4 separate regions of the Homo sapiens genome follow, and regions 1, 2 and 3 are each linked to region 4. Evidence: fine-mapped expression QTL. A gene starts in region 4. Each other region holds a variant in brackets. All regions are shown on one strand. Distances are between the middles of the regions.

The links. PIP is the estimated chance that this variant, and not a neighbour inherited with it, causes the effect.
Region 1: its variant is fine-mapped to the expression of TMEM63C in whole blood (TOPMed, PIP above 0.99).
Region 2: its variant is fine-mapped to the expression of TMEM63C in cerebellum (GTEx, PIP above 0.99).
Region 3: its variant is fine-mapped to the expression of TMEM63C in cerebellar hemisphere (GTEx, PIP 0.97).

What each region holds. Positions count from the first base shown.
Region 1 is chr14:77,093,560-77,101,111 of GRCh38, reverse strand. It overlaps CIPC (CLOCK interacting pacemaker), which reads right to left and starts at 2,854. Exons shown (of 4, transcript NM_033426.3): 1 at 2,751-2,854. It overlaps LOC124903350 (a long non-coding RNA gene), which reads left to right and starts at 3,094. Exons shown (of 2, transcript XR_007064275.1): 1 at 3,094-3,236; 2 at 4,212-4,647. RefSeq lists enhancers at 2,084-2,243, 2,383-3,212, 3,574-3,623 and a silencer at 3,244-3,393. The variant C/A (reference allele first, on the strand shown) is at 3,290.
Region 2 is chr14:77,224,307-77,231,858 of GRCh38, reverse strand. It overlaps TMEM63C (transmembrane protein 63C), which reads right to left. Exons shown (of 24, transcript NM_020431.4): 6 at 6,398-6,435; 7 at 129-271. Among named protein-coding and RNA genes, the nearest start is that of MIR1260A, 38 kb to the left of the region's middle. The variant C/T (reference allele first, on the strand shown) is at 3,188.
Region 3 is chr14:77,235,691-77,243,242 of GRCh38, reverse strand. It overlaps TMEM63C (transmembrane protein 63C), which reads right to left. Exons shown (of 24, transcript NM_020431.4): 9 at 6,511-6,619; 10 at 4,476-4,549; 11 at 3,751-3,831; 12 at 3,517-3,640; 13 at 2,635-2,768; 14 at 774-896; 15 at 187-340. Among named protein-coding and RNA genes, the nearest start is that of MIR1260A, 27 kb to the left of the region's middle. The variant A/G (reference allele first, on the strand shown) is at 3,197.
Region 4 is chr14:77,178,418-77,185,969 of GRCh38, reverse strand. It overlaps TMEM63C (transmembrane protein 63C), which reads right to left and starts at 4,172. Exons shown (of 24, transcript NM_020431.4): 1 at 4,076-4,172. RefSeq lists an enhancer at 3,722-3,851.

The DNA of each region.
Region 1 (7,552 bases), 85 kb after region 4:
TGGATTACTAAGCTCTTACCCACTGTGTTCTTTCTGCTTCCTGCTTCCTGGCATAGACTGGAAATCACTCACGCTGCTTTACAAACACATGTACCTTATTCTGCATTAAAAGGGCTAATTTAGGCTCCAAAACTGTCAGAATTTACCCTAATTGGGCCTCTTATGCATGTATATGTAACACATTGTCCAAAAGTTTCCCAGAGAGGATAGTACACACTAAAACTCATAATGGAAAGTGAATCAGGCCGGGTGTGGTGGCTCACACCTATAATCCCAGCACTTTGGGAGGCAGAGGTGGATGGATCACCTGAGGTCAGGAGTTCGAGACCAGCCTGGCCAACATGGTGAAACCCTGTCTCTACTAAAAATACAAAAATTAGCTGGGTGTGGTGGCACACATCTGTAATCCTAGCTACTTGGGAGGGTGAGGCAGGAGAATCCCTTGAACCTGGGATGTGGAGTTGCAGTGAGCCGAGATGTTGCCACTGCCCTCCAGCCTGGGTGAAGAGTGAGACTCCGTCAAAAGAAAAAAAAAAAAGAAGAGAAAAGAAAAGAAAAGAGAGAATCAGAGCCAGGCAAGGTGGCTCACGTCTATAATCCCAGCAGCACTTTGAGGCACAGGCGGGCAGATCACCTGAGGTCAGGAGTTGGAGACCAGCCTGGCCAATATGGTGAAACCCTGTCTCTACTAAAAACACAAAAATTAGCTGGGCTTGGGGATGTGTGCCTGTAATCCCAGCTTCTCAAGAGGCTGAGGCACGAGAATAGCTTGAACCTGGGAGGCAGAGATTGTAGTAAGCCGAAATTGTGCCTCTGCACTCCAGCCTGGGTGACAGAGTGAGACTCCGTCTCAAAAAAAAAAAAAAAAAAAGAAAGAAAGAAAGTGAATCAATAAATATATAAGTTTATATAAGGGGACAAAATTCAAAATCCTAGCAAGTGCTCCAAAGCATTTAGCTCTTACTACTCTTTTTGCACTTCTGACATTAGTCTAATTATTTGTCTCCTCAACCTCGAGTTGTTTTTTTCATCTTTGCAACCTCAGCCCCCAACAATTAACATGAGGCATTCAATAGAGTAATAAATTCCAACAAATCTCTGACCTGCTGAGTCTCTGACAGCTCTAGTAGCTTAGCAGTCACAGAAATACCTGAACAGCTTGAAGGTCAAGATTCTGCATTTCCAAACACCACGGTCACCTTAAGATCTAACCTCCACGTCTGGTCCCCTGCAGGAAACAGATATTTGATCTACCCCTTATTCTAAGTTGAAACGTCAGGGACAAATCCACCATCCAAATTAAGGGTTGATCTAATCCACAAACAATCTTTGTGAAGATTTGTCCTTATGATTAAAAAGGAGATCCAGGGTTACAAGAAAAGGATCTGAAATGCTGCTTTCAGATCTCTCCTTTTATAGACACTTGGCAACATTCCTGGAAGCTCAAGTTCCCTTTAAAATGTGTCACGTGTATAACATGTGTGCCTGGACAGAAGTGTGAGGTAAAAGCCCAACCAGAGGCTTAAATACAATAAAGTGATAAGGTCACAGAAAGAAAACCTTGAGTAATCCCCGTTAGAATTATAAATACATTACTAGCTTTTCTCCGAAGTCATTTTCTTTTGGCCTGCATATTCAGGGATACCATTCTGGGAGAATGTCTGGGTATCTTAACAGTGGAAAAACCCTGTCTACCTAAATGTCTAATATTCATCTTCCCTTCCACATTCATTCCATTTCTCCAACTTGGCTGAAAATTCGTGTCAAAGATCCTGAACCCCAATTCCATACAATTTCCTATGTTTTAGACCAGTTTGGCTCTATTTTCACCTTTCAAAGGGGAGATGAGCTTAGAGAACTTTCTCCGATCCCCTGCTGCAATTAGTTCACAGTAACAGTGCCCACCTACCCATTCGCACCAGCCCACGTTGCATCTGTGCCAGGCAGCATGTGCACCCTCCAGGCATCCACCAGCCTGCCAGCTCAGCAGGGCAAAACTGGGCAGACCCTAGTACTGTGCTGTGACTGGCATACCACCAGCCTTCCAGGGCAAACGCCCAGGCAATGCATACTGCCAGGACTTGAGCAATAACAGGGAGCCTAGCTCCAGCCTGTGACCTGGGCCGGGATCAGAGCTCCCCCGAACCCACCCACTAACCACTTAACTCCTTACTTGGCACTGCCCACCTTCTCCCCAGAAACACTACCCCCGACACCAAGCCTGGCAAGCTGGCCACTCAGGGGAAACAACCAGCAACGAGGGTGACGGCAGGTCTCTGGAAAAGGCAGCACACCTGTGCCCTGGAGCCAGAACAGGGTACCACCCCCGACCTCAAACCGGAAGCCCAGGACCCTCGCCCAGTTACTAGTTCTGGCGCCCACTCACCTGCCCATTGCTTGGCCCTCAGCTCCCAGCCGGGCTGGACTCCAAGCTCTCTCCCCGCCCAGCCGGCTGGCGGTTGCGCCCAGGGCTAGACCAGGGCCCACCTGCCCCTCACACAAGCCTCCTCCCCACACGCAGCCCCCTCCTCACCCGCGATTCCCTCTCCCACGCCCCTCACAGCAAACCAAAGCCCTGCTCCCACCATTTGGCTCTCCGTCCTCCGAAAGTCCCGGTTTGCCCCTCTTGCCTACTCGCTCCTCTTCCTCTCTCCCCTACTTCCACCTCCTTTCCCCACGCTCCTCGCCCAATCCCTCTCCCGCCGTCATCCCTGCTCCCCTCCTCCCGGACCGAGCCCTCCCTTTCTCACCTAGGGCCGGGGTCGCAGCTCCACGACCGGCCTGTGGGTCAGGTGGCGCATGCGCGAGCACGGCCCCGCGGCACCATGACAACCTCGTCGTCGCTGGGTGTCTCGCTATCCCCACAGCCTCCCGCCCATTTCTCCTCCCCACGCCTCCGCGACGGCTTTCGCCAGCCACGTGACCCGACTCGGATGACCCGGCACCATGGAGACCGCACGCTGTTCTCCTAGAAGGGCCCTTGGAAATGCGCCCTTTCCCCGCCCCCGCCGGAAGACCAGGCCGGCGCGGGGCGGGGCCAGCGCTCAGAGGCCTACGCTCTGTCCGCGGCCGGCGGGCGTCTCTATGGTTGGTTCCTCAGGCCTCGCCGCCATTTTGTACGGGGGCCTTGAGCAATGAGCGGCTTGGGCAAGGTTTCCAGGCGGGGTTCAGAGGAGCCGGGGGTGGGGCCGGCTTGGAGTCGATACAGAGAGAGGAGCGACTCTCGCACTGTCTTGGTGCGTGCCGCCGTGCCGCCGTGCCGCCGTTGGGGGTGGGGGCCGGGGCGAGT[C/A]GTGTCCGGCCTGTGCGCGTGCCGGGAGCGACAGTGCCCGGCGTGGGAGAGCGGGCGTGCGGGCGGCCTCAGCCTGGAGTCGCCGTGACAGGGGTGCCAGACCTCCCCGCGTGCTCCTCGCATTTTCTCTACGCCTGTCGCCCTGTTTGTTTTTTGTTCCCGTCCACCCTCGAGACCGTGCTTCACGAGGTCGAGGCGCGATGAGTTATTTTAAGTAGATGATTTCATGACCTTTGATGTTTGACTGACTTTGTCATGTGCTATGGGTTTTATATGGATGCTGTTTCTTGGTGAAGGTTCACGGTGAACACACGTGTGTAACAGCTAAAGAAAAAAAGGGCTTGGGATCAGTTGACGTTCTGATGCCTTGAATCAGTGAAGGTTACTTAGAAAAAGAATTATTTCGCTAGTGAAAAAGAGGACATGGGCGAGTTTAAAGAGTTGACGGGTCGAGGCAGATTCAAGAGCTGAGCTGTCCAGTAAGATGGTCACTAACGACTGGATAAGTTTCTCAGTTGTACTAGCCACATTTCAGGAGCTCAGTGACCTCTTTATTGGACAGTGCAGATTATATATAGCCCATTCCCAGCATCGCAGAAAGTTATATTGGACAGTGCTGATTTAGATAGTGGGGAATTGTTTTATACTGGTCATCCAGGCCTTTGTAAGTGCTGCTAGGTCGTGGTTAATCACGTTAGTCCTCTAGACACAGGTAATTCTAATGTATTACTGGGTATGGGTGTACTTGTTAGTAGTCAGCTTTACCAACAAGTAATATGCCTACACCATGTAAGGCTTTTGTTTTGGGGACAGAGTGAAAGCAATAGTTAACAATTACCAAGTAATTAGGAGCCGGGCCGCTTTATATGCATCCTTTTATGATTCCTTACAAGTTTATGACGCAGGTGGTATTTTTTTCCAGTTGTGTGGCGTTTTTGCCCATTAGGACTCAACTAAAAACCCATGGCTTTGGCCAGGCACAGTGGCTGACGCCTGTAATCCCAGCACTTTGGGAGGCCGAGGCGGGCGGATCACCTGAGGTCAGGAGTTCAAGATCAGCCTGGGCAACACGGTGAAACCCCGTCTCTACTAAAAATACAAAATTAGCTGGGCGTGGTGGCACATGCCTGTAATCCTCGGGAGGCTGAGGCAGGATAATCGCTTGAACCTGGGAGGCGGAGGATGCGGTGAGCCGAGATCGTGCCATTGCACTCCAGCCTGGGCAACAAATCTCCGTCTCACCAAAACAAACAAACGAAAACCGTGGCTTTTATCCATGAAGCTATTAATATATTGCCTTCTTTTGAAGTGGAATAAAACAATCTGCCTTCAGATAACTTAAAATCTGATATGGGAAATAAGACGCGCTGTAATAAATAATATGAAAGAGAATGGGATAAGTACCAGAAGATTGTGAACAAAACCTAATTAATAAAATAAAGGGAGAAAAAAAAACTTTGTTTTTTTTTGGTTGTTGGAGTAGGAAGAGATCAGTAGGTAAATCTTTAAGGATAGCTAAAAGTTGGATTTGCAGTAATGGAAGTGGGTGAGAGTACGACGCACACAAAGCAAAAAAAGAATCAATGAAATAAGCAAAAGCATGAGGTGTGGTCCTATCTTAGTTTTCCGAAGGGGCAAATAAATAAACTATGAGAGGAATGAATTAATGGCATTTGCAGCAACCTGGATGAGATTGGAGACTTATATTCTAAGTGAAGTAACTAAGGAATAGAAACCCAAACATCGTATGTTCTCACTCATAAGTGGGAGTTAAGCTATGAGGATGTAAAGGCATAAGGATGATACAGTGGACTTTGGGGACTCAAGGGGAAAGGGTGGGAAGGGGGTGAGGGATAAAAGACTACAAATTGGGTGCAGTGTATACTGCTCAGGTGATGGGTTCACCAAAATCTCACAAATCACCGCTTAAGAACTTACTCATATAACCAAAATGCCACCTGTTCCCCAAAAACCTATGGAAATAAAAAATTTAAAAAACAGCAGCATGGATACTAGGCTTAATACCTGGGTAACGAAATCATCTGTACAACAAACCGCCATGACACAAGTTTACCTATGTAACGAATCTGCACACGTATCCCTGAACTTAAATAAAAAACAAAACAAAAATAAAATTCAAAAAAAAAAAGAATAAAAGTCTGCCTTCAAATAACTTACAATCTGATATGGGAAATAAGACATGATGTAATAAGCAATATGAAAGAGAATGGGATAACTACCAAAAGATTCTGAACAAAACAATAACATTAAGGGAGAAAAAAAAAACTTTCTTTTTCGGTTGTTGGAGTAGAAAGAGACCAGCAGGTAAAGCTTTAAAGACAGCTTGAAAGTTGGGTTTGCAATAATGGAAGCAGGTGAGGGGATAATGCATACCAAGCAAAAAAGAATCAGTGAAATATGCGAAAGCATGAGGCCCTCTTAGTCCTCCGAAGGGGCAAATAAACCAAACTTCCTTGACTTTACCTACATCTTGAGCAGACAGCCATGCTGTACCAATAACTTAAGCTTCAGACAAGTATTGTAATGGAACCAAATGAATCAAGACTAATGATAGGCATAATTTTTATGATTATTTTATGCTATGATTCTATATAATTAGATATACAGAATAAGCAATTCATGAAGATTGATAGTGAATATTTTTATGTAGCTAAACCACCGTAAACGTTTTTCTTCCTTTCCTATTAATTTACCAAGATTTGTAAATCAGCATCTATTGATAGTTTACTGGTGCCACGAATTCTTTAACCTTCACTCACTTTACTCTCTTTACTCTTGGTTGGAGTAAGGACCCTATGATGGATGGGGTAAGGACCCTGTGATGGATAGTGGGTTCTGAAGCACCTATTCTTCTTGCTGTAGGGTCCTTTCCAATTCAAGTTCTCCCCAGTACCATTGTGGTCTAGGTTCGGTTTCCTACCACCACAACCAGCAGGGGGAGACATGCGCCCTTAAATCCTACATTTAGGGACTTGCGAATGTTTCTTTTTTTTTCCCATCTACTTCTTGAAATTGTAACCTGCCTATCCGTGTGAGGATTTGAGTTTTTAACCCTGCCTAGGATACCATGAAGAGTCAGCCATGGGCCGAGTTTTATTTGAAGATATTTTAAGTGTATTATGTTATACAATTTAAAATATTTATAAACGATTGTTTAATAATTGTTGAATTTAAAATTAAAGTCATTTAAAAATATTTAAAAGTGGGCCAGGCGCAGTGGCTCACACCTGTAATCCCAGCACTTTGGGAGGCCAAGGCGGGCAGATCACTAGGTCAGGAGTTCAAGACCAGCCTGGCCAACGTGGTGAAACCCCGTCTCTACTGAAAATACAAAAATTAGCTGGGCATGGTGGCATGCGCCTTTAATCCCAGCCACTCAGGGGGCTGAGGCAGGAGAATTGCTTGAATCCAGGAGGCGGAGGCTGCAGTGAGCTGAAATTGTGCCACTGCACTCCAGCCTGGGTGACAGAGCGAGACTCCGTCTCAAAAAAAAAAAAAAAAAAAATTTAGAAGTAATTAAAATAGTGTAATAGGAGACGGTGAAAGTCAGTGATCTAGTTTCAAATTCCAGCTCCTATCAATATCATTTTACAAAAGAAGGGTCATTTTGATATCTTTTCCGTATACACAGAAGGGAAGATAGGACATAACCTCACAATTTAAAAATAGAATAATTTCGGGTGTATGAAAAACTTAAAGCTTTTAGTCTTATTTTTCCAGTTTGGCTGAAGACTGGTGAAAACATCACCACAAGGACTGGCAACAGTTCTTGGACTGGTGTTTGGGAACCATTGATTTCATTTTCCTGAACCTCAGTTTGGCCGTCTGTAAAATAGTTATCCTGTAGTTTGAATCTAGCATCTAGCATTATTGGTGCTGATCACTTCATAAGTCTTTAAATAGGATTTGATGGAGTGGTAAGTGTGTCTCATGGGTCAGTGAGAGAAGAGAGGGGCTCCAGCCTGTGTGGGCAGGGGGATCTACAGGTGCCAGATGGCAGAGGCAGAGGCCAGTGATAGTGGGATGTATGACCTTTTTTCCCTTAGCAGTCAGGTAACAAGGCCCTCACCAGCCAGACTGGTTCTTGGCTCATATTTTAGGGAAGTATTTGGCAGAGCAGGTACACTAAAAGGGTAATATTCAGGTTATGGTCAGGCTGTTCATATACAGGTGAAGGTTTTGATTTTAGAGACAGTGTAAACCCTTCCCACATAGCCCTCTGTCTTCTTGCTGATACTTGAA
Region 2 (7,552 bases), 46 kb before region 4:
ACACAACAACAAACTCCCAGAGGCAGGATTAAAATAGATGTCTAGACCCTCAACCCCAGCCCTGACTGGCTTGCCTGGCTGCCTCTCAGGTCCAGCTGCTGCCCCAGGGCCAGCTGAGCTTTGCCTACCCAGAACAGATCCAGTATAGTTGATGGGCAAAATGATGCCCAGGGAGGGGATACAGATGATGAGCACAAAGATGATGAGGTGGTACTGGAACACGATGTAGATGCGCGCGTCGTCCCCACACTTGTTAATCAGATCCTCGTCCCTGGAAGAGACACACAGACAAGGACGTGCCTCAGGAGCCAGCGTGGCCACCACTTGTTGCGGGGAGGTAGAGGGAAGGGCAGAAAATGATCACCCCCTCCCCAAGTTTTTTTTTTTTTTTACTATCTCTATATCTCATATATAAGGCAACTTCGAAATTGCCCTATATCTCAAAGCCTCGGTTATCCTTGAAGTATACTTTAACTGAATTTCACAGACATATCAAAGATAGGGGCTCTGTTACAGATACACACTCAGGAATCCAGAAACACTCTTGAAATAGAGCATGCATTCATCCTTTTATTACTTCTTCAAACATTTTGAGTGGTTGCTATGGTGCAGGCACCAGATAAAGCACTTGTGGTACTGAGAGGCACTCTTAGGAAAAAAGGAACACCTGAAACCCATGACGAGATAATGAGCTATCACTCCACACTGCCAGATTTGCCAAAGTTGGAAAGTTGGACAACACTAAGTGCTGGTGAGAGTGTGGGGCGCTGGGAGTTCTCCTGCTCTCATGGGTGTATATGCTGGCCCAGTTACACTGGAGAACAGTTGGTATTATCTACTGAAATGGAATACATGCACATTCTATGACCCAGCAATTCACTCCTAGGTTTATACCCAACAGAAATGCATGACATGTGTACCTAGAGACATGTATAAAAATTTCACAGATGCATTACTTGTAACGTCCTCAAACTGGAAACAACTTACATGTCTATCAAGGTGAAATGGACACAAGAACTGTGATATATAAATCATGAAATACTAGACAGCAGTGGTCCCTAACCTTTTTGGCACCAGGGACCAGTTTTGTGGAAGACAATTTTTTCCATGGACCTGGGTGTGGGGTGGTGGGGGGGCAGATAATTTTGGGATGAAACTGTTCTACCTCAGATCATCAGGCATTAGTTAGAGTCTCATAAGGAGCAGGCAGCCTAGATCCCTCATATGTGCAGTTCACAATAGGATTTGTGCTCCTATGAGAAGCTCATGCCGCCGCTGATCTGACAGGAGGCAGAGCTCAGGTGTAATGCTCGCTCACCTCCTGCTGCGGGGCCAGGTTCCTAACAGGTATCGATCTGTGGCCTGGAGGTTGGGGACCCCTGTTACACAGCAATAAAAATGAATGACCCATAGCTGAACCTCACAAACACAATGCTGAGTAAAAGTTACCAGGCACAAACAACACATACTGTGTGGTTTCAAACATAAAGTTCAGCTATAGGCAATACTGAGCTATAGAGTTAGAATGGGATGGGGATGAAGGTTGGGGGACAGGAAGAGAGCTGCTGGGTATTGGCGATGTTCTAGTTGTGGATCAGGATGATGGTGGCACAGCCTTAGCTTTGTGATGACTGAGCTGTACATTTTTTTTTTTTTTGAGACAGAGTCTTGCTCTGTTGCCCAGGCTGGAGGGCAGTGGCACGATCTTGGCTCACTGCAACCTCCTCCTCCCGGGTTCAAGTGATTCTCCTGCCTCAGCCTCCCGAGCAGCTGGGACTATAGGTGTGCGCCACCACGCCCAGCTAATTTTTTGTATTTTTTAGTAGAGACGGGGTTTCACCATGTTGACCAGGATGATCTTGATCTCTTGAGCTCAGGGGATCCGCCTGCCTCGGCCTCCCAAAGTGCTTGGATTACAGGCGTGAGCCACCATGCCGGGCCGAGCTGTACATTTTTTGGTGTGCACTTTTCCATGTGCATGCTATACTTCAATTTAAACAATTTAAAAGCAACAAGTGCTCATAGAAACTTTGGAAAATATGAAAAAGAAGTAAATAATTCATCTACAATCTCATTGAACCTAAGACAATGATTAAAAAGCATTTGTGGCTGGGCATGGTGGATTGCGCCTGTAATCCCGGTACTTTGGGAGGCAGAGACAGGTGGATTGCTTGAGCCCAGCAGTTCGAGACCAGCCTGGGCAACATGGTGAAACCCCATCTCTACTATATATATATATATATATTAGCTGGGTGTGGTAGCATGTGCCTGTAGTCCCAGCTACTCTGGAGGCTGAGGTAGGAGGATCGCTTGAGCCTGGGAGGTTGAGGCTACAGTGAGCCAATATCATGCCACTGCACTCCAGCCTGGGTGACCTGGGGAACAGAGCAAGACCCTGTCTCAAAATAATAATAATGATAATAATAAGCATTTGGACTTAATTTTTGTTTGTTTGTTTGTTTTGAGACAGAGTCTCACTCTATAGCTCCGGCTGGAGTGCGTGACATGATCTTGGCTCACTGCAACCTCTGTCTCCCAGATTCAAGTGATTCTCCTGCCTCAGCCTCCCAAATAGCTGGGATTACAGGTGTGTACTCAGCCAAATTTTTGTATTTTTAGTAGAGACGGAGTTTCACCATGTTGGCCAGGTTGGTCTCAAACTCCTGATCTCAAATGATCTGCCCGCTTTGGCCTCCCAAAGTGCTGGGATTACAGGTGTGAGCCACCATGCCCAACCTCCTTTATTTTCTTGTTGTGTTCATTTTACTTGGTGATTATAGTTATAAAAAGCATTTGATGCACTGCTCTTTTGCTTGGCATTTAATCTCAAGCATTTTCCGATGGTTTTACGTAATGGTGACAGTGGCCTCTGTTGATGGAGCACTGGTTCATGCTCAGCACCATGCAGGCCTCCCCACTCCACTGGTGGACACACCATGGTTTACCCACCCCTGCCCCCTTGTCAGGATTGTAGGTTGTATGCAAAACTAGCATCCAGTCTGGGATTCAGATTTATTTTTAAGGCCGGGTGCAGTGGCTTATGCCTGTAATCCCAGCACTTTGGGGGGCCAAGATGGGCAGATCACTTGAGATCAGGAGTTCAAGACCAGCCTGGCCAACGTGGTGAAGCCCTGTCTCTACTAAAAATATAAAAATTAGCCAGGCATGGTGGCACGTGCCTGTAATC[C/T]CAGCTACTTGGGAGGCTGAGGCAGGAAAATTGTTTGAACGTGGGAGGCGGAGGTTGCAGTGAGCTGAGATCGTACCACTGCCCTCCAGCCTGGGCGACAGAGTGAGACTCCGTCTTAAAAAAAAAAAAAAGATTTATTTTTAAACAATACTACAAAAGGCACACCTTCAAGGTTTTCAATGTTCTCATTTGAGGAATTATTTAGAGCTCTTGATTTTTTAACTTTGAGCGGCTAAACGTTTCCCTCCCTGGACTTGAGAATGAAATGCCAGAAGTGGAATGGATGAGAACTTCTGGAGAGCGGGGGAAGGTCCTCTTGCACTGCCTGAGGCGGGGTGAGGTCCAGGAGCCTCCAATCAGGTGGAGAGAGCAGAGGGCTGGACAGGACTGGATGGCACTGAGAGCACTAGAATTCTCTTCCTGGGCCAGGAATTCCTGCCTCCACCACTAGGCCTGTTTCCTTTCTCCATCTTTCTTGTAAGTGCCCCACCCTGACCTTCCAGCCAATCGCCCTTCTTCCTACTCACAATTAATTCTCTGTCTCTGCTCTCATTGCTTCCCTTCCTTCCACCTCTTTCTGAAGACGTGCTGGATCCATTGTTCTGCTCTCTCATCTTCGGCATCCTCCTCTCTCTGCATGCACCTGCGTCCACCCACACCTCTTCCCTGTAAACTACAACCAGGCTCAAGTGCTTGTTGGTTCCTCTGTAATAAAACAGCTCCTCAAGGATCCACTCTCTGATCTGTTCCCTGACCTGTTTTCCCTCCTCCTTCCAGTAGCTTCACTTCCCTCCTTCCATGCACCTCTGGAAAAAGGTGACCTTCCTTCTCTGCCTCTGTGTCTTGGACATCCTATCCTCGGCCTGCCCTCCCAACAGAGACCCAACTCACCAAAGTCAATGTCCTTTCCTCAACCCCCATTCTACTCCACCTCTGTAGCACTAGAGGTTTCTGGGTCGCCCCACCCTAGAGGGGAGCCTTGTCCTGGCCTGGCTTCACTGAGTCCAGCCCAGAGGATGCCTCTTCCTCCCGCCTCGATGAGGCACTCCCTTGGGCCGCTTCTGGTCTTACATCCTTGGATGACCCATCTGCTCCCATGACTTCAACTACAGCCTCCATGCACCATCTCCCAAGTTGAAATCTCTAACTCTGACCTTTCTCCTAGGCTTCAATCTTGTTTTTTCAACAGCTCCTTTGTCAGCTTGCATACTTGCCCTGACTACATCTCATCATTTTGTGTTTCCTCTCCCACCTAATGGCATTACTACCCTCCCCAGAAACCAGACCTCAATTTCTCCCTCTTTCTTAACTAGGCCACAACCTACTGACTGTAGCCTTATGATCTCCCTCCCATCTTCCCCTCCCATTGTTTCTCTAGTCACTGCCCCGGTTCAGGTCACTAGCACCTCCCACCTCGACCATTGGAATAGCCTCCTTAACTGCTCACCTTGACTTTGGACTTTCTCTAATGCCATTCACTCTCCATACTTCTGCCTACACACATATATTGTTCTGAGTTTCCAGCTTAAAAATACTAATTGGCTCTCTACTGTCTCTAGATGAAAGCCCAAGATTCTCAGTATGCCAGCCAAGGTCCCAGCTGAGGCCCAGTGCGGTGGCTCATGCCTGTAATCCCAGCACTTTAAGAGACTGAGGCAGGTGGATCACCTCAGGTCAGGAGTTTGAGGCCAGCCTGGCCAACATGGTGAAACCCCGTCTCTACTAAAAATACAAAAATTAGCTGGACATGGTGGCACGTGCCTCTAATCCCAGCTACTCGGGAGGCTGAGGCAGGAGAATTGCTTGAACCCAGGAGGCGGAGGTTGCAGTGAGCTGAGATTGTGCCACTGCACATCACCCTGGTGACAGAGAGATATTCTGTCTCAAAAAAAAAAAAAAAAAAATCCCAACTGATCCTTCCAGCCCAATCTTTTACCCTCCCCCGCCACACTTACCATGAAACCTTGCTTCTAGTCACACCAGATTTACCATGTCTGTGCACACCCTACTCATCTCTGCAACAAACTGGCTCACACGGTCCTTTACTTCTGATGTGCCCTCCACATCCCACATCGCGCCTGTCGAAACTCTTCCTGTCCTCCAATGCCCAGCTCAAAACTATACTTTTCCAGTTGGAATTAATTTCTCTCTTCCCCACATGCCGTCTGCACAGCAATTATAACCCTCCCATTCTGAATGCTACGAAGGGAGTCTTGTTCACCTTTGTTTCTCCAACCAGACCGCATGGGTTTGTGCACGGGGACGCTACTTGACTTATTGCTGCTCAGTAAACGCATTAAGCTGTCTTCTATGACACTGCTCTCAAGAGCTGCTGGATGCACGGTGCAATGCCCTGCCTTCCTGCTTTCCCAGATGCTGGGTCCCTGACAGAGGGGCCTCTGTGATAGGAGTCTTTGGGTAGGGGTGGGGTGGAGGGGTTTAAAGGATGGGCAGGACAGGACAGGTGGAGCACACTGAGGGAGAGCCCATGAGTGTGTGGGGTCTGAGGTGGAGGCAGAGCTGTGTGCACACGTGTACGTGTGTGTGCGTGTATGTATGAGTGTGCATGTGTGTATGCCTACGCAGTGGGAACATAGAGTTCCGGTAAGTGTCTGCTCTGCTGAAGCGTCTGGCTGGTGTTGGGGAATCAGGAGAAAACACGTAACTTGAGGTCAGCTTGCAGGAGAAAACAGGTGACTTGGGGGCTGCTTGCTTGCAAAGTGGGGTCTGGCATTCAAGAAACCCACAAGGTGAGGTGGGCAAGGGCTGCCCCTCTGCTCTCCAGGCACTGAGGCCGAGCGAGGCCTGCCCTTCTGCCCGATGTTTGCTTGGGCAGAAGGGCGAACACATGATATGTTGAATGATGTTCACAGAAATCAAGCAGATAGCACAAAGGAAGGGTTTCTTTTTCCTGGTGTGGAGTTCACAGAAGCATTTCTATAAGCACGCGAGTAATGATTCAGCTATTAAAAGTGGTCCTTCCCTAAGGACTGAGGCAGAGATAACAGGGGCAGTGGGCTGTGCCCAGTTCTCACGTCACCAACTGTACCCCAGGAAAGCATCCTTCACTGGTAATGGGCCGAGGTGGCGGGGAGGATACGGAGCTCAGGCCCTGTCTTCCCAGGCTGGGGGCTGCTAACTTTTCCAGGAGCCTCCACCCCCCACCCCCAAGGCAACACGGTCACAAGCTCACAGAGCCCGGGCACTTACTTCATTGTTATGCTGTTGAAGAACCAGGAACAGAATCCCTGCGGGGAAAGGAGAGAAACTGTGAGAAAACCCAGGTCCTGGCCTGCCCTGCCCAGCTCTGGGAACCCAGGCGGCCAGGTCATCTGAGGCAGCCGCGGCAGCGTCCGGGGCCTCCTTCCTGGGAAAAAGAGTCTGAAGGCTCAGCTGGGAACCAGTGGTGACTGTGGAGGGAGATGCTTCCCTGGAAATGAGTGGACATCTCTGCCCTCCTGTTATAGGAAATGGGGTTTAGAAGGTGACCCTTGAACTGGAGGGGGAGAAGTGACTGCTTCTGGGGTGAACGTCTGTTGCTCTCTGTCTGTCCTTCATGCTTCCTTCTGGAAATGTCCTTCACTGGATGCGTGTGGTCCAGTGGGCTCCTACTCTTACTCTGTCCGAGTGGGAGTTTGCCTCCAGTGATTGACTGGCCAATGGGAACTTTACCCAAGTGGGGCCAATTAAAATTTCCTTAAGGAAGCCAGGCATGGTGGCTCACACTTGTCATCTCAGCAGCTCAAGAGGCTGAGGCAGATGGATCACTTGAGCCCAGGAGTTTGAGTCCAGCCTGGGCAACACAGCAAGACCCCACTTATTAAAATTAAAAAAAAAAATCCCTTAAGGGGATTGATATGGGTGTTGCAAGGAGGAAGGTCTCTTTCCCTCTGAATTCCTGCACCTCAGTAAACATCATGAAACCTGGCGTGGTTTGGTGGCATCTTTGATGCCATGTGCTGAGGGTCCTGTCCGGTTGAGGCCTTTCTCTTGGGGTCTTGCTGTCTGGAGTTTCTGGGTGGTGGGGAAAGGTGGCCTTAGCCATGGGGAGATTGGTGGGGGACTAGAGAGAGAGTCATCTTTGGAACGGTGTGTAAGAGAGGGGGCTGGGGCCTGCAGCTCTAAAAGCTGCCAGCTCTGGTAGCTGGTGAAGTTACTCTGGTGCCTGCTTCCTTCTGGGATCCCAGAGGACTTAGCAAAACCTTGCACAAGGTTACAGCTCTAGATTGGCCCCATTTGGGTCATGTGCACTTCTGTGAACCAGGCAGACCTCTTGATTGATAGTCCTCTGGAACCACATGGACTGGGGAAGAGGTACTTCCCAAAAGGAAGCAACTATCAGCCAACCTGACACAGGGAAGGAAA
Region 3 (7,552 bases), 57 kb before region 4:
CCCACCTTCATCCCTTTAGAACAAAGCAAGCCCTACCCCGCCATTTGCACCATGGCCACCTCCACAATGTTCGCACTGTATGGGCTCCACAGCCCCCTCCCAGGGGGCTCCCCCCATCCCATCCTCGCCTGAATTATTCCTTGATCTCCCTGGGGTCCCCAGGCCTGGCCTGAGCAGAGGAGGCACCTGCAGCTTCTCGATGGGGCGGGTGACGTTGTACATGTCGATAGTGTTCATGATGATGGCAGGCGTGGTGAGAAAGAAGAAGAGGAAGAAGAGGAAGGTGTTGATTGCGATAAAGCGGGCCCACCAAAAGAAGCGGCGGACAGACAGGTGTTTCCTGGGGAAGGATGGAAGAAGGAGGCACATTTAGAGACATCAGTTCTTAGAGCCCACGTGCTGTTTGCTGCAGGCCAGCTGTGGACCCAGCCTGCCCTGGTCTAATCCAGCCTCCTGGGCCCAGACTTGCATGCAACAGGACCCTGGACCGTCCCCTGTCACACCATTTATAAAGGATCCAGAGCATAGAGCCAAAAAAAAATGGACCTGAGTTCCCTCTGCAGGAAAAGCCTTTTTGCTAAGGGTTGGATGCCACCCACACTTGTGGGAATGAGTCTGGGCATACACACAGGTTGTGGTGCTTAGGAGAGCATGGAACTTAGTCCCCTTGGAGTCTCTGTTGGGCAATGACATGGGGAGAGAAGGCCCTGTCCTGCTGCCTTCTTCAGTCTCAGAGGAGCTCAGAGGAGAGGGGAGGGATGGAGGAGGCTTACCAAATAATGTCTTTGGGGTGTGGGGCCATAGTGACCCTCCAGTAATATGATTTGACGATGGTGGTCACTGAGGACTGCTGGGGTTGCACACCACACTGGACATACTTGTAATCCTTACGGACACTGCAGAGAGGGGAGAAGAGGAAGAAATGTGGGTCTGGGGGTGGGGGGATGGGCTTAGGAGGGTCTCATGCCAGGAGCTCAGGGCCACTATGGTGGTCCTACAGATGGGGGCTCATCCCCTTCCTGGGGATTCTTGAAGCCTTGGATATGTCTTCAGGACCTTAGAGGTGGACAGTTCCTAAGGCCCAGTATCTGGAGGAAAGGGCATTTGAGGGTGCCTAGACTGCCCAGGCAGGGCAGAGGTGCCACGTGGTTCTGTTTCTGCCTTTCCCCTTAACAGCAGTGACAGCACATAAACACACTCTTTCTTTGAGATTTGATAAGGGAGGTACTACTTTTAGCCTCATCTTAATATCAATAGCTACTAATTATTGAGTTCTTTCTGTGTGCTTGACACTGTGCTAATTGATGACCAGTATCATTTCCATTGCACAGATGACTAAATCGAGGTGCCTAGAGATGTGACCAAAGAGGAGCAGGTGCTGGAGCCCCACCTCTGGCTTGCTAGCTCATATTCTGCTGTAATTAAGCCCCGGATCCTCTCTACCAAATGGCAATGTCTCAAAGAATGAACAATATAACCTTAGGTAGGTGTATTGCTTTAAACAACACAGAAACTGAATAGAAGGCATATCACTTGTCAACCCTCCGGGAGGTGAACAGGACAGATATCAGTAACCAAATTTGCCAGATAAAAAGTTGAGAGTGTAAGGAACTTGCAAAATTGTGTACCATTGTTTGTGAGCAAAATCTAGGTAGTTCTGCTCTTCCTTTGTAGGGTTGGGGTAGGTGGGAACAATGTGCTGTACAGGATCAGCCTCCCCCAGAAAGAAGAGCCCCCCTGCCCCCCACAGTTCTTAAGAGATAAATTCTGGAGCTCCTTTAGGACTTTGGCCCAGTCCTAAGGATCCTTCTGGAACATTCCAGAGTGGACTGAATTCACTCCTTGTCAACGCATGGGCTGCCAGAGGCTGGGGCAGAGAAGAGAGGGGACTGTAGAGCTATGAATTAGGGGAGGCCTGCGGCAGGAGAAGGGCAAACAGAGCTGCTCTATCCTGACGCTCTCTTATGGTGAGGAGGGAGTGATGTGTGTGTCAGCTGGGCGCAGTGGCTCACACCTGTAATCCCAGCACTTTGGGAGACTGAGGTGGGCAGATCACCTGAGGTCAGGAGTTCGAGACCAGCCTGGCCAACATGGTGAAACCCCGTCTCTACTAAAAATACAAACATTAGCCGGGCATGGTGGCAGGCACCTGTAATCCCAGCTACTTGGGAGGCTGAGGCAGGAGAATCGCTTGAACCTGGGAGGCAGAGGTCGTAGTGAGCTGAGATTGTGCCATTGCACTCCAGCCTGGGTGACAGAGCGAGACTCTCTCAAAAAAAGAAAAAAAAAAAAAAAGAAAAAAAAAAAAAAAGAAAAAGGGAAAAGGGATGTCATTCTTGTCAAGGGCAGAAGAGGGACCATGAGGTCAAAGGCTTCTCTGACCACCTCTGTGCTAAAGCAAGGACAGGGAGTGAGGAGCCCCGGCCTGGGCACCCCTTGAGAGCAGCTGGGCCCCAGCAGCTGGGGGAAGCAGGTATGGCCATCTCATCCACTGGAGAGCCAGATGGCAGCTGCCTGTGACGAGCATGGAGGGCCCAGGGGAGGCAGAAGGGGAAACTGGAGGTGGAGAGGGAGGAGAGTGCCGAGAAGCAGGAGTATGCTTGGGGCTGGGTGGGGCGCCTGCCTGGTGCTCACCGCTTGGCCATCCTGGAGTCCTGGAAGGTGACAAAGATCAGGTCCAGCCGCTTGAGCGGCACGCGGTTGAGCTCGGCGTTGAACTCGTCCGTTAGCTGCTCCTCTAGCTCGCTGTAATACTGCTCTGCATCCACCTGGGGTGGCAGGCAGCCTTCAGGGCTGGGGCCAGAGCCCCAGGAAGGCCTCCCTGGTCACGAGGTTCCTCCCCACTCAAGCCTCCCTGGATTGTGGTGGCCTTGAAGCACCTCAAGGAGCCCAGGACCCTGGCTGGCCTCCAAAGTCCCACCTCTAGAACAAGAAGAGGCGATGACTGCCATTCACCCCTGCCCTTAGATCTGGGGAAAGTGAGGCATAGCTAGGGGTACCCGGGGGCTTTCAGGCTTGGGGTGGACCCCAGAGAGGTGAGAGAATGTGTTTGCCGCATTTCCACGAGAGAGGGTGAATCTCTGGGCTGGCAGAAGTTCGGCATGGTCCTGAAGCAGGTGTCTGAGTCTCGACGCCCTCTTTGAGCCACAGTGGTCAGGTGATAAGACAAGCTGTTGCCTTCAAATGTTTCTGTCCT[A/G]TCTCTTTGGGAGCCTGAGGCCTGGCAGCCTCGTGTAGCCTGCTGTGTTTTCTCTGGTCCTTCTCTCTCATTCTCCCATCCAAGACCAGAAAGGAGACAGCAGCAAGCTTCCCTGGATTGTTCTGAAGGTGGCCTCCAGAAAGGCTCCCATCTCAACAGGGAGGCAGGACATGGTGGATGGGGAGGAAGGAGCTGGGTGGGGAGCACTAGAGCAGACCTGAGTGAGGCCTGGGGCCCAACAGTGCGGGCAAAGGCACAGAGCCTAGAGCCCCAGGACCCCACCGCTCCCTTGCTGTGCTCCCAACGCTCAAGCCAGTTACCTCCTTGAAGCAGGTCCAGCACTTGCAGAAGCACAGGCGGGCACAGGGGTGGATCCTGATCATCACCTTCCCAGTCTTCTTGGCCTTGGCTGTATAGAAAAGCCGGCCCCGCATGGCATGGCGCCTGCCAGCGGTGGGCAACAGGAGAAGGACCTGCAGGTCAGGGGCCAGCAGAGCCCCATCCTCCCCTTTTACCCCCACCCCGGGCCCCAAAAGGCCCCGCTGCAGCCTCACCTCTGATCGTCCAAGTCGATCAGGTTCCTGACGTCGTAGCAGAAGTGGACTCTTGTCACGACACTGCCTGGATAGGCCTCGCTGCAGCCACAAACATGGGTGCTGAGTCGGCCTGTGGGGTTGGGGATGTGCTGCCCCTACCCCCTGCCCAGCATGTCGGCCCTGAGGGCTGGGTGGCTCAGCTGCCTGGTGTTCCTGGATGGGATACTCCATCTCTGCTCCTAAAGCTGAACCTCAGGGTTTGAACCTTGGCAATCTGAGAGCTGCCAAATCCTTCCTACACAACTCAGAACAGGGCAAAAGGGCGGAGCTCCACCCACTGGGGAACCCAGGAGACAGCTGTTCACGAAGAGATAATTAGCTCAGTGAACAGTGTCCTTGGGGCTGGGAACTTGGGGTCACAAAGGATGTCTCCAGATGATCTTCTCTAAATAGCTGTGATCCAAGGTTCCCTGTGCTCAGTAGTTGAAGCAACAGGAGAAAGAAAAATTCCCATCACCCATATCACAGCCATGCCATGCAGGAAGTCCCTGACTTCAGACACCCTGCTCCAGCTCCAGCGGCCCTCCCCATTCTAAAAAGCTGATCCTGAGCTGAGTCCAGGGAGAGCCACCCCGGGGTGTCCCAGTCCCACCATCCTGCACCAACTCACTACCCACTTGAGGACCCAGGCGGGGTTATGGGGAGGAAGCAATCCACGCCTTGGCCTACCCCAACCCACTTACTGAAAATGCTTAATGATGAGTTCTGGGTCTTCAATGTCCTTGGGCACATAGGTGATCATTAGTGTCCTTGTGACCTGGGTGGGAAAAATAAAAATGGAGAAAGAAGACTGTGCTTGCATAGGAATTCCAGACACCTCAGTCTTTTGGTGGCTCAGAGCAGGCCTTCTGCTCACAGCAGGCTGCTGATGCCAGTGCCTCCTTGCTGAGAGAGCCAAGAAAGCCAGAGCCAAGCTGGGACACTGTGGGCCAAGGAAGTGCCAGCTGCCTTAGCCCACAGCGTCCCAGCTGAGCCAGGCAGCTCTGAGGTTGGTCAACTGTGCTTCCGTTCTCCTCTGTGCCCAGCTGTGGGTGCCCTGCTCCGGACTGCTGTGGTGAAGGGAGGAAGGACTGGAAAGCTGCCATCAGGCTGGGGTGGAGGATCAGAGCTCCATGATTGGAAAGAGCTGCCAGAGCGACCCCACAGTGATTTCTGCTCTCCCTGTAGCTTCCACTGTTCCAGCGTAAAGCCTCACATCTCTAGGGAAATCCCTCACGTGAGACTGGGCCGGGGAGTTGGGAAGTAAACAAGACTCTGGGGAGAGGGTAGGGAAGCTTCCCTAAACTTCACACTTTATTCTGTGAATGGGAAATATCTTCCTGGGTCGTCACCTTTAAGATGACAGTCTGGTAATTGTGCTGCAAGAATCAGGGGTCTTGAAAGAGGCTTCTGGTGACAAGAAGGAAAGCTGAAGTAGCAGACACCAGACTGGTCAAGGGTGACCAAGCCTCCATGCCTGGCAGGCTGAAGCATTTGGGTTCACTTTTCAGGGAATGTGGATTTGCACTCTGGGGTGGGTTCAAGTGAATCAGTCCTTTTGAATGGACGGCCTGGAAGGAGCTGATTCCACACCACTGAACCTTTGAAAGGCTGAGGACGGGAACTAAGGATGCTCCTCACTCTTGCCCATCCCCAGCAGAGCATGGGTGCTGGTCCAGATGGGTGGCACTGCTGGTGCCTGCCCGTGGCCCCCCGTCAGTCATCTCTGCACACCAACACCTGCAGCATGCTTCAAATACTGCGACTGCTCTTTCCCGGCCTTGGGGCATGTTCAGCTTTTGTGCAGGGCCAAGTAGGGGAGGAGTTAAAGCCCCCAAGCGCAACCCTCAATGAACGGTGGACAGGGAGCTGGTGGAAAATACCCACGATTGCTCACCTCCAGGAAAATTCTGGGGCATGTGCTCTACACCAGCTCCCAGAGTTCCCTGGTCATGAAGCTCCACTTGCCCACAGGGGTAAGTTGCCCCTCCATGCTCCCTTTTTTTGGTTGCCTTTGCATCCTCACTCCCTTACTGGCCTTTCCTGGGATCACCTCCCATAAACAAGCGCTACTCATTCCAAGTCTCAGGGTCTGCTTGGATGGGGTCACCCAAACTGAGACGGTGGGGATACACGGGGGTCTCTGATCTCCGAGAGACTGCAGAAGGGCGAGGCACGGGCCTAGCAGGGGTGGGCAGGGCCAGGTACACTAAGTAGCAGCAGCTCAGCAGGGCCCAGACCACTTAGCATGGAGGCCCCCGCTGGTCCACTGGGCCTTGTTAATCCTTTAGTTTTCAGATGGTGGGAAGTCCAAGAGTCCCTGGGGAGGGGCGGGGCAGCAGAGGGGCAGGGATAGGAGGTACCTGGGCAGCAGCTATTTACCAACCAGTCTGAAAGTTTCATTAGGGGTGAGAGGATGGAGGGTGAGAGGGTGAGAGGGTGGAGGAGCGTGAGAGGGTGGAGCAGCGTGGAGGAGGGTGAGAGGGTGGAGGAGCGTGAGAGGGTGGAGCAGCGTGGAGGAGGGTGAGAGGGTGGAGAAGGGTGAGAGGTGGGGGCCAGGTGATTGTTACTAGGACTGAAGGGAGGAAGCTTGGCCCCTGCTCAGGTGAAACCGCCCCCTCCCATCTATCACAGTCTCCCTGGACCCTCTGAGGGCTTCTCTGAGGGTTGGAAGTGGTCAGCCCAGTGGGGAGGGACCCCAGCTTCCCACAGTGGGAAGCAGCTTTGTAGGCTACTTACCTTTTGGCTATTCCTGGGTGCAAACCCCAGGCAGTGATGAGCCATGAACATGAAGTTGGTGATGAAGTAGAAGAAGGACAGCAGGCTATGCAGCCACAGGAGCTTGCTCCTGCAGGGAGGGAGGCAGCAGCAGTGAGGTCAGCCTGTGAGCTCCCCAGAGCCCACTGCACAGAGACCCCTGGGCCTCCTCCTACCCTCAGTCTCCTGGGGCCCCCCAGCCCATCACAGTCTCCTCAGACCCCCACAACCATCCAAGTCTCCCCAGACCCCAACCCATTACAGTATCCCCCACCCCCACCCATCACAGTCTCCCTAGACTCCCCCTACCATCACAGTCTCCCCATACCCCCCCACCAGTCTGCCCATACCCCCCACCCACCACAGTCTGCCCATACCCCCACCCATCACAGTCTCCCCATACCCCCACCCATCACAGTCTCCCTATACCCCCCACCCACCAGTCTCCCCATACCCCCCACCCACCACAGTCTCCCCATACCCCCACCCATCACAGTCTCCCCATACCCCCATCCATTACAGACTCCCCATACCCCCCACCCACCACAGTCTCCCCAGACCCCCACCCATCACAGTCTCCCTAGACTCCCCCTACCATCACAGTCTCCCCATGCCCCCACCCATCGCAGTCTCCCCATACCCCCCACCCACCACAGTCTCCCCAGACCCCCACCCATCACAGTCTCCCTAGACTCCCCACCCATCACAGTCTCCCCAGACCCCCCCACCCATCACCATCTCCCCAGGCCACCACCCACCGCAGTCCCCCTGGACACCTCCCCCACCCATCACAGTCTCCTAGGGCTCCCTGCTCCCTCCCACCCATCACAGTCTCCCCATACCCCCCCACCCACCACAGTCTCCCCATACCCCCCACCCACCACAGTCTCCTCATACCCCCCACCCACCAGTCTTCCCATACCGCCCACCCATCACAGTCTCCCCATACCCCCACCCATCACAGTCTCCCCATACCCCCAGCCATCACAGTCTCCCCATACCCCCACCCATCACAGTCTCCCCA
Region 4 (7,552 bases):
CCACTCAGCAAGCAGAGGGACGAGCAAATGGAAAGAAGGGGACTCCTGGTCACCAGGCCCCAAGCTGGGCACCTTTCCGCTTCCTCCCATTCATCCTTCCAGTGGCTCTGTGTGGAGGGGATTGCTTCACCATGTTGCAAATGGAAGACTCACGGAAGTGAAGTGAGCAGGTAATGAAATAGGTGGGAACGCAGCTCCCAAGTACTCCCCCAGGCAGCGTGTCCATGTATGACAGGTCCTCTGTGCTTCCATGTCCCCCATCAAAGCAGGATTGATTTCCCCACAGGGCCCTGGGTGCATGTTCCATTGCCCTCTGTAGTGTTTCTACCCTATGGCCAAATCACTGCCACTCAGACACCCTAAGGCAATGAGTCCTCAACACCCAAAACCCAATGGACAGCTGTATCCCAGCGGACTGGCCACAGCTCCATCTTGCCCACCTATCTCTCCAAAGACCTTAGGGTCACTTGCTCTTCTGCTGGGACTCGATGGCCTGAGGCCAGCATGCACCTTGCTGGGCACAACTCTGAGAAGACTCAGCCAGAGTGAGGAGAAGGCTTCTGCCTCCAGGACCTTCCTTGGCCAGGCCACTCAGTAATGGGGAGGGGACAGTTTGGTTTCCTGTTGGAAGCTGATCTTTCTGCCTCTGATCCTCTAAGGACACCAGAGGCCCTGGCTTGGCAGGAATGAAGGTCTACAGGCACAGGGCTGGGCATGACTCACTCACCTCCAGCCCAGCTCTTCCCATCTCATCTTGAGGGTGCTCGTGTCAAATGGCAGAGTGAAAGGCTGGGAAAAGCAGAAGGTGGGAGCCCAGGACACTTGGGTCCTAGTCCTAGCTTTCTAAGCAGGTCTATGCTTCGGTTTCCCTTTGGGGAGCATTACTAATGACTACAAGGAGGCAGGAGGTGACAATGAGGCGCCCCTTCCCCGCCCACTCTGCCTCTGCATGTCTCAGCACCAGCCCCAGGGGTGTTGGCAAGGAATGTGGCAGCTTGAGTACATATCCTGCCCTAGAAACACAGAACATGGAGTCCTGGCCACACGTTGTTCTTCTTAAGAGCCACCCTCAGTTGGGCCTAAGCAATGCAGACAGATCTAGAGCAAGGACACACCATACTTCGTGAGCTGCCCACGTTCTCATCTCAGCTCCTCCTGTAACCCTACCTTGCAGGAGTTGCACCAGCCAACTCATGGGCAAGAATGTGGAGTTCCATTTACACCACCCATGCTGATGTGTAAGCTGTGAAAACCACTGCTCTCCCACGAGAGGAAAGAAGAGTGAGCATTGGGGCCCCACCTCAGGCAAAACAGGGCACTAAAAGCTGCTGATCTCACTGGAAGCTGAGCACTTCCTCTGAGCACTTTCATTACAGCCTTTCCCAGTGTGAGCCTGCCCATGGCCTGAGCACCACGTGGGTTCCTGCAAACTGGACGCTCTGTGCAAACAGCTCCCAGCACTTTACACCCATTATCTTTATGGTTCTTCCACCCGCCTCTTCCCAGGAAGAATCAGAGCAGAGGTCGTGGAATTCGAGAGTTGAGGCAGTGGGGAGGGTACAGGCCTGTAGGAAGCTCCACGGTGCCACTAGACACCTGCATTTTCGGGGGTGAACATCCTGTTAAATATGTTAACTATAATGGGCAGCTGGGGATGGAGGGGATGAAACTCCTCAAGGGCCCAAGCACAACTTGAAGCGGGCTGGGGAGGGCTGACCTGCCTTCCCAGCCTAGAAGGATGCCCTAGGCTGGCCGCAGAGGGAGAGAGCATCCTCTGAAGAAGAAATGACCATGTTTCCCCCATCAAGGCAGGAAACAGATGGCTTCCACCTAGACCAGAGACTCCAGGAATAATACTTCCCATTTGTAATAAACACTTGACAAGTTTCCAAAGCCCTCCCACCCATCTGGAGAAGGTGTTTTCATGCCTAGCTATCAGGTAGAGATGCTGAGGGCAGAGTGCCTGCCGATAGAGGCACTCGGTCCAGCTCTCTGCTCTTTAAGTCTGGTTCTCACCACGGGGCCTCTCTGAGGCCTGACCCTTTCTCTGCTAGCTGGGAGGGACACATACCATGTGGTTTCCCTCCAGTATGGTGGGCCCTCTCCTCTCTGGTGCTATATTGTCACCCCACAAGCAGCTAGTTCTCATCTGGTTTACTGGGAACCCCATCCCTTCCCACAGGTCACCCCAGCAGCTCCTGGTGGTCATCATGCAACCCAAGGCTCCTGTGAAGCCAGCAGGGGCCAGCGTCAGGGGTTCTGTGCTCAGAGGGTGTCTGAAAAGGAGCAATTCATGAGCCAGGCACATGGCAACTCCTTTCACTTGGAGTAAACCGGTGCTGGCCCAAACCCCCGATCCGGAGATGCTGTCAGGGAGATAAATGAAGTCCCTCTACCTGTGGATCCCCACTCCCTGGCTATGCTCACAGCTGCTGGCACTCGGGCAGGAGGGATGCCTGTTTTTGGCTCCGATAGGCCCACAGAAATTGTGTATCCCTGTGGGGGCATGATGGGAAGGTAACCAAGAGACTTCACTTCCCGTCTTCAAGCTGCTTCCTTCCCAAGAAACTAGAAAACATATCTTAAAGGAGGAGAAAATGCTGGTGCTGTTCCCTGTCACCGACCTCCTCCACACCCATCAGGAGGCCCTTGCAGCCTCAGCTTCTCAGCGCTGGGACTGTGGGGTGCGAAGAGAAGACAGGAAGAGGCCCCTCCAGTCTGCCCTTTGGTGGCTGGGGAGTCAGAAGACCTGCATGTAGGTAAGATACCTGGAGAACTCACTCCACCCTCTGTGCCTCAGTTTCCTCATCTGGCTCTGGCTCTAAAATGTCGCTCTCTCCTTGCCTCAGTTTCCCTCCAGGGAAGGTCATCTGTCCCAGGGAGAAGAACAAGGTGAATTCACTTCTAAGGGGAAAGTTCACTTCTAAGGGCAATAGACGGAATGTAGCCCATTTCTCCCAGGGACAGGGGCCGGAGAGAGAACAAGGATAAGGTGATAACAGAGGGTGGTGCTAAGAGATGGACCCTTTCTTGAGGGAAAACACATCTTCCTGGAGCGCTGCAGGCTGTTGAAGGAGAAAGTTCATCTCCTCATTCCCATCAGCACGGGCCTTCCTCTCCTCAAAGCCAACTCTCATTCTTTCCTTGAACCCACAAGAACAGCACACGCTCACACCCCCTCTGCTCACTTAGGTGTTTTTCATGAGCAATTTTCTCCTGTCCCCAGACAATCTAATTGCTGCTTACACCCATGATACCCTGGAGCCCCATGCGGAAGTTGCAACTCCCTGCATTCTCAGGGATGAGGAAATGGGGTGCTGGGGTGGGGGGAGGTCCTGGGGTCTAGAGAGGAAGAAGGGCCCCTGCCCCTCCAGAGGGCATTCGGTGAAGGCAGTGCCTGGGAGGCCAGCTCTGTAGGGCCTGCTCAGTGACCTTGGTCAAGCCACAGCACCCCTGGGCCTCAGTTTCCCCAGGGCCTTCATCCAAACACAACGTTCCTCTCTCAAGGCCAGGGCGAGTAGGGAGGCAAGAGCCTTTCTTTGGAAGCACATGGGGAAAGGGTGGCATTGTTCCCCTGGGGGCCCAGGAGCCCAGCCCGCCAGGCAGCAGCGCAGCAGTGACGTTGTCATAACCCATAACGGCGGAGCAGACTGCCCCCTCCCGTCCCAGCCCAGAGAGTGGGCGGCAGAGCCCCGGGGAATCCCTGGGTGGGGGAGAGGGTAGCCCCGAGCGGTAACTCCCACCTGGCTGTCAGGCAGGAGGCCGGGGACCCCCCAAGCAAACCTCCTACCCACCTCCGTTCCCCCAACCCAGTGAAGACCGGTCTACTAAAGCCACGCCCTCCCGGGTGGGCGGCTCAGGCCACCCTTTCCTGGGTACAAGCTAGAGACAGCCAGCGTGGCAAGGGACTGTGGCGCAGTCTCCCCTACCCCCATCCCTCCCAATGCAAGGTCTCAGAAAGCACAGAAACAAGCAATCCTTCCCCGCCCCCTCCCCGTGCGGGACCTGGATCCGGCGCCCCTTCTTCCCGGCCCGACCAGCCCCGGTCACCGCACCCGCATCGCGTGCTCACCACATTTGCGTCCTCAGCACCGCGGCCCCAGCCCCAGGCTCGGCGCTCAGGCCGCCAGGCTGCAGTGACAGGCTCCACGCTCCCCACCTGGGAGGAGACTGCCAGCGGGTCCTCCTCCTCGCCGGCTGGGCGAAGCCAGCCCCACCTGGCAAGGGACTGTCAGCAAATTCCTCTCTGCATCACTGTGAGAGAGGCATCCCGGCTCCTCCCAAGCAGGGGCCAACCTTGGCCCCGCCCCAAAGCTTCTCTGACCTGCCGGGGAACCCAGGCTGGCAGATCCTACGCGAAGACCCAGGCTCCGCCTCAGAGACCCTGTCGCTACCAGGAACCATCTGCAAATTACTATCTCAAACACACAAGGCTGCCGGTCCCTGGTTCCAGCTTGCTCCAGCTGCCCTGATGCATTGGGCCTTGGCAGCTCCTTTGCCACCTCCCCTCGCCCTCCCTGAGGCATGTCGCCTTTCCCAGTCTCCTTAGTCCCATCAGCCAGAAGCAAGAAAAGCCACTCCACTCCCACAAAGATAGCCCTCTGCCCCGCCCAAGGACCAGGTCCTGGCACCAGCCTAGTGGCTGGTACCCAGCTGCTACCCAGACTCCTTCTACAGCAAAGGAGTGATCTACAATTGGCCACAGCCCCACCAGGGAGGGCCAAGGGAGTGAGCTGGGTCATTTCCGGTTTGCGGTGGGCCACAATCCTGCAGGTATCAGAGTTTCATCAAAGTCCTGCCCACTCTGCTATAGACACTGGTTTTGACCCCGAGGACAGGTGCCAGTGTTTGCAACCCCCAAAGACCAGTGTGCAAAACAAGGGGCAGTAGTAAACAGCCTCTCCCTCCCAGGCAGGGGCCTAGGCACATTTATGTCATCGACATTATCTGGCACTTGCAGTACAATAGCTGATGGGAAAGAAGCCACTGCCCAATGCTCTCTGAAAGTGACTCCCTTTCACCAGTTAGGGCTGTTAACAATATGATAAGAATGCCATAGAGGAAGCCCTGTGAACACAAGGTCATGAGGTGCCAGAGGAGGGGGTCAAAGGCTGGTTATGCTTTCATGGGTTGATTTCCCCATAACCAGCAGCACAGCACCCCCTTCCACACAACCGTATCAGGCTGGCGCACTCTAGTCATCTCCCTCTTCCCCTGACCCCCTGGTTCTCATGACCCAACCACCCCACGAAGACCCAAGGGTGAGCCACATAGACAGACTCTGTCGAAGTCTATCCATTATCCACTCACTCGCCCAGGCTGGAGTGCAGTGGTGTGATCTCGGCTCACTGCAAGCTCCGCCTCCCAGGTTCACGCCATTCTCCTGCCTCAGCCTCCCGAGTAGCTGGGACTACAAGCTCCCGCCACCACGCCCGGATAATTTTTTTTTTTTGTATTTTTTAGTAGAGACGGGGTTTCACCGCGTTAGCCAGAATTGTCTCGATCTCCTGACCTCGTGATTCGCCCGCCTCAGCCTCCCAAAGTGCTGGGATTACAGGCGTGAGCCACCGCGCCGGCCCACTCATTATCTTTTTCATTCACGGGACGGGAAGACTTTTGAACACGTATTCTGCAGTGGCAACAGGGCATCAGGGTCTAGGTTCCAGCCCTTGCTTAGCGGCTATCATGCTGTGCAACCTTGGGTAGCTCACTTGATCTCTCTTTGTTTTTCCCTCTCATCTGTAATTCTGAGAGGGCTGGGCTAGTTGAGGTCTCACACCCCTCTGCTCTGACACCTTTATTCTCTTCTAGGATAAAGGCTGGCGGGTACAAAGACAAATCAGATCAATACAAGAATAGTGCTGGGAACGCTAGCTGCCTGCATTTCAGTCCCAGCTGGGCCACCTAAATGTGGGACTTAACCTCTCTGTGCTTTTTTTTTTTTTTGGCATATGGAAAATGGGGGAAAACAATAATCATAAGCTTAAAGGGTGATTGTGAGGATTAAATGAAATACCATGTACAAAATAAATGCTCTGCAAATATTCATTGTTGTTGCTGTAGTTATGCTATTCACAGTCTGGTGGGACAGCATAAATTCTCAACAAAAGCAGTTCGTCTTTTCCTTCTCTGCTTCATCATCACAGAAGCTGTTGTAAGCCCATATCCAACCCACTCCACCTCCTAGAGGAGAAACCTGATAAGCATCAAGGTCATGCCGTAAAGAGAGGCCAGGTGTGGTGGCTCACGCCTATAATCCTAACAGTTTGGGAGGCTGAGGCGGGCAGATGACTTGAGGTTGGGAGTTCGAGACCAGCCTGGCCAATGTGATGAAACCCAGTCTCAACCAAAAATACAAAAATTAGTCGGGGGTGGTGGCGGGCACCTGCAATCCCAGCTACTTGGGAGGCTGAGGCAGGAGAATCACTTGAACCCAGGAGACGGAGGTTGCAGTGAGCTGAGATCATACCACTGCACTCCAGCTGGGCGACAGAGTGAGACTCCGTCTTGAAAAAAAAAGAAAGATACAGTAAAGGGGGACGGAAGCCAGGTGTGGTAGCTCACACCTGTAATCCCAGCTACCTGGGAGGCTGAGGCAGGAGGACTTCTTGAGGCCAGGAGGTTGAGACAAGCCTGGGCAATATAGAGAGACCTACATCGGAGAGGAGAGGAGGGGAGGGGAGGGCAGGAGAGGGAAGGGGAGGGGAGGGGAGGGGAAGAGAGGAGAGGAGAAAGAAAGAAAAAGAAAGAAAGAAAGAAAGAAAGAAAGAAAGAAAGAAAGAAAGAAAGAAAGAAAGAAAGAAAGAAAAAGAAAGAAAGGAAGGAAGGAAGGAAGGAAAGAAGGAAGGAAGGGGAAGGGAAGGAAGGGAGGGAGGGAGGGAGGGAAGGGAAGGAAGGGAGGAGAACCCATGGAAGGAGGAGAACCCATGGAGATGCCAGGTGGGCTGTGTGGTGGGGAAAGAGATGACCCCAATGTCCCAACCAACCACCTAGATGAGTGTCAGCTTGTAGAAGGTTCTCAGTAAAGGTGTATGGGTATGAATAACTGAGGCTTTCAAAAGAAAGGCCCTTCTGGTCTGTGACACTGAAAACACTTATCATGCTCTCACTTGTGGATTGGGGTGGGAGTGCCTTTGGCCTGAGTTGTCAAATCTGAAAGATTATGCCTGTTATTGTCTTCATGACCGCGTTGTTAACCTCCAATGTCTGGTCTGGGAACATAATCCAGAACAATATAAAAGAAACAAAAGGACTCTGAGTAACCCTTACAGTGAGCTGAGATGGCACCACTGCACTCCAGCCTGGGCGACAGAGCGAGACTCCGTCTCAAAAGAAAAAAAAAATAGACAGAGAGAGAGGTACAGAAAAGGGGGATGGAAGCCAAGTGTGGTGGCTCACACCTGTAATCCCAGCTACTTGGGAGGCTGAGGCAGGAGGATTTCTCGAGGCCAGGAGGTTGAGACCAGCCTGGGCAATATAGAGAGATCTACATCAGAAAGGAGAGGAGAGGAGGGGAGGGGAGGGCAGGGGAGGGAAGAGGAGGGGAGGGGAA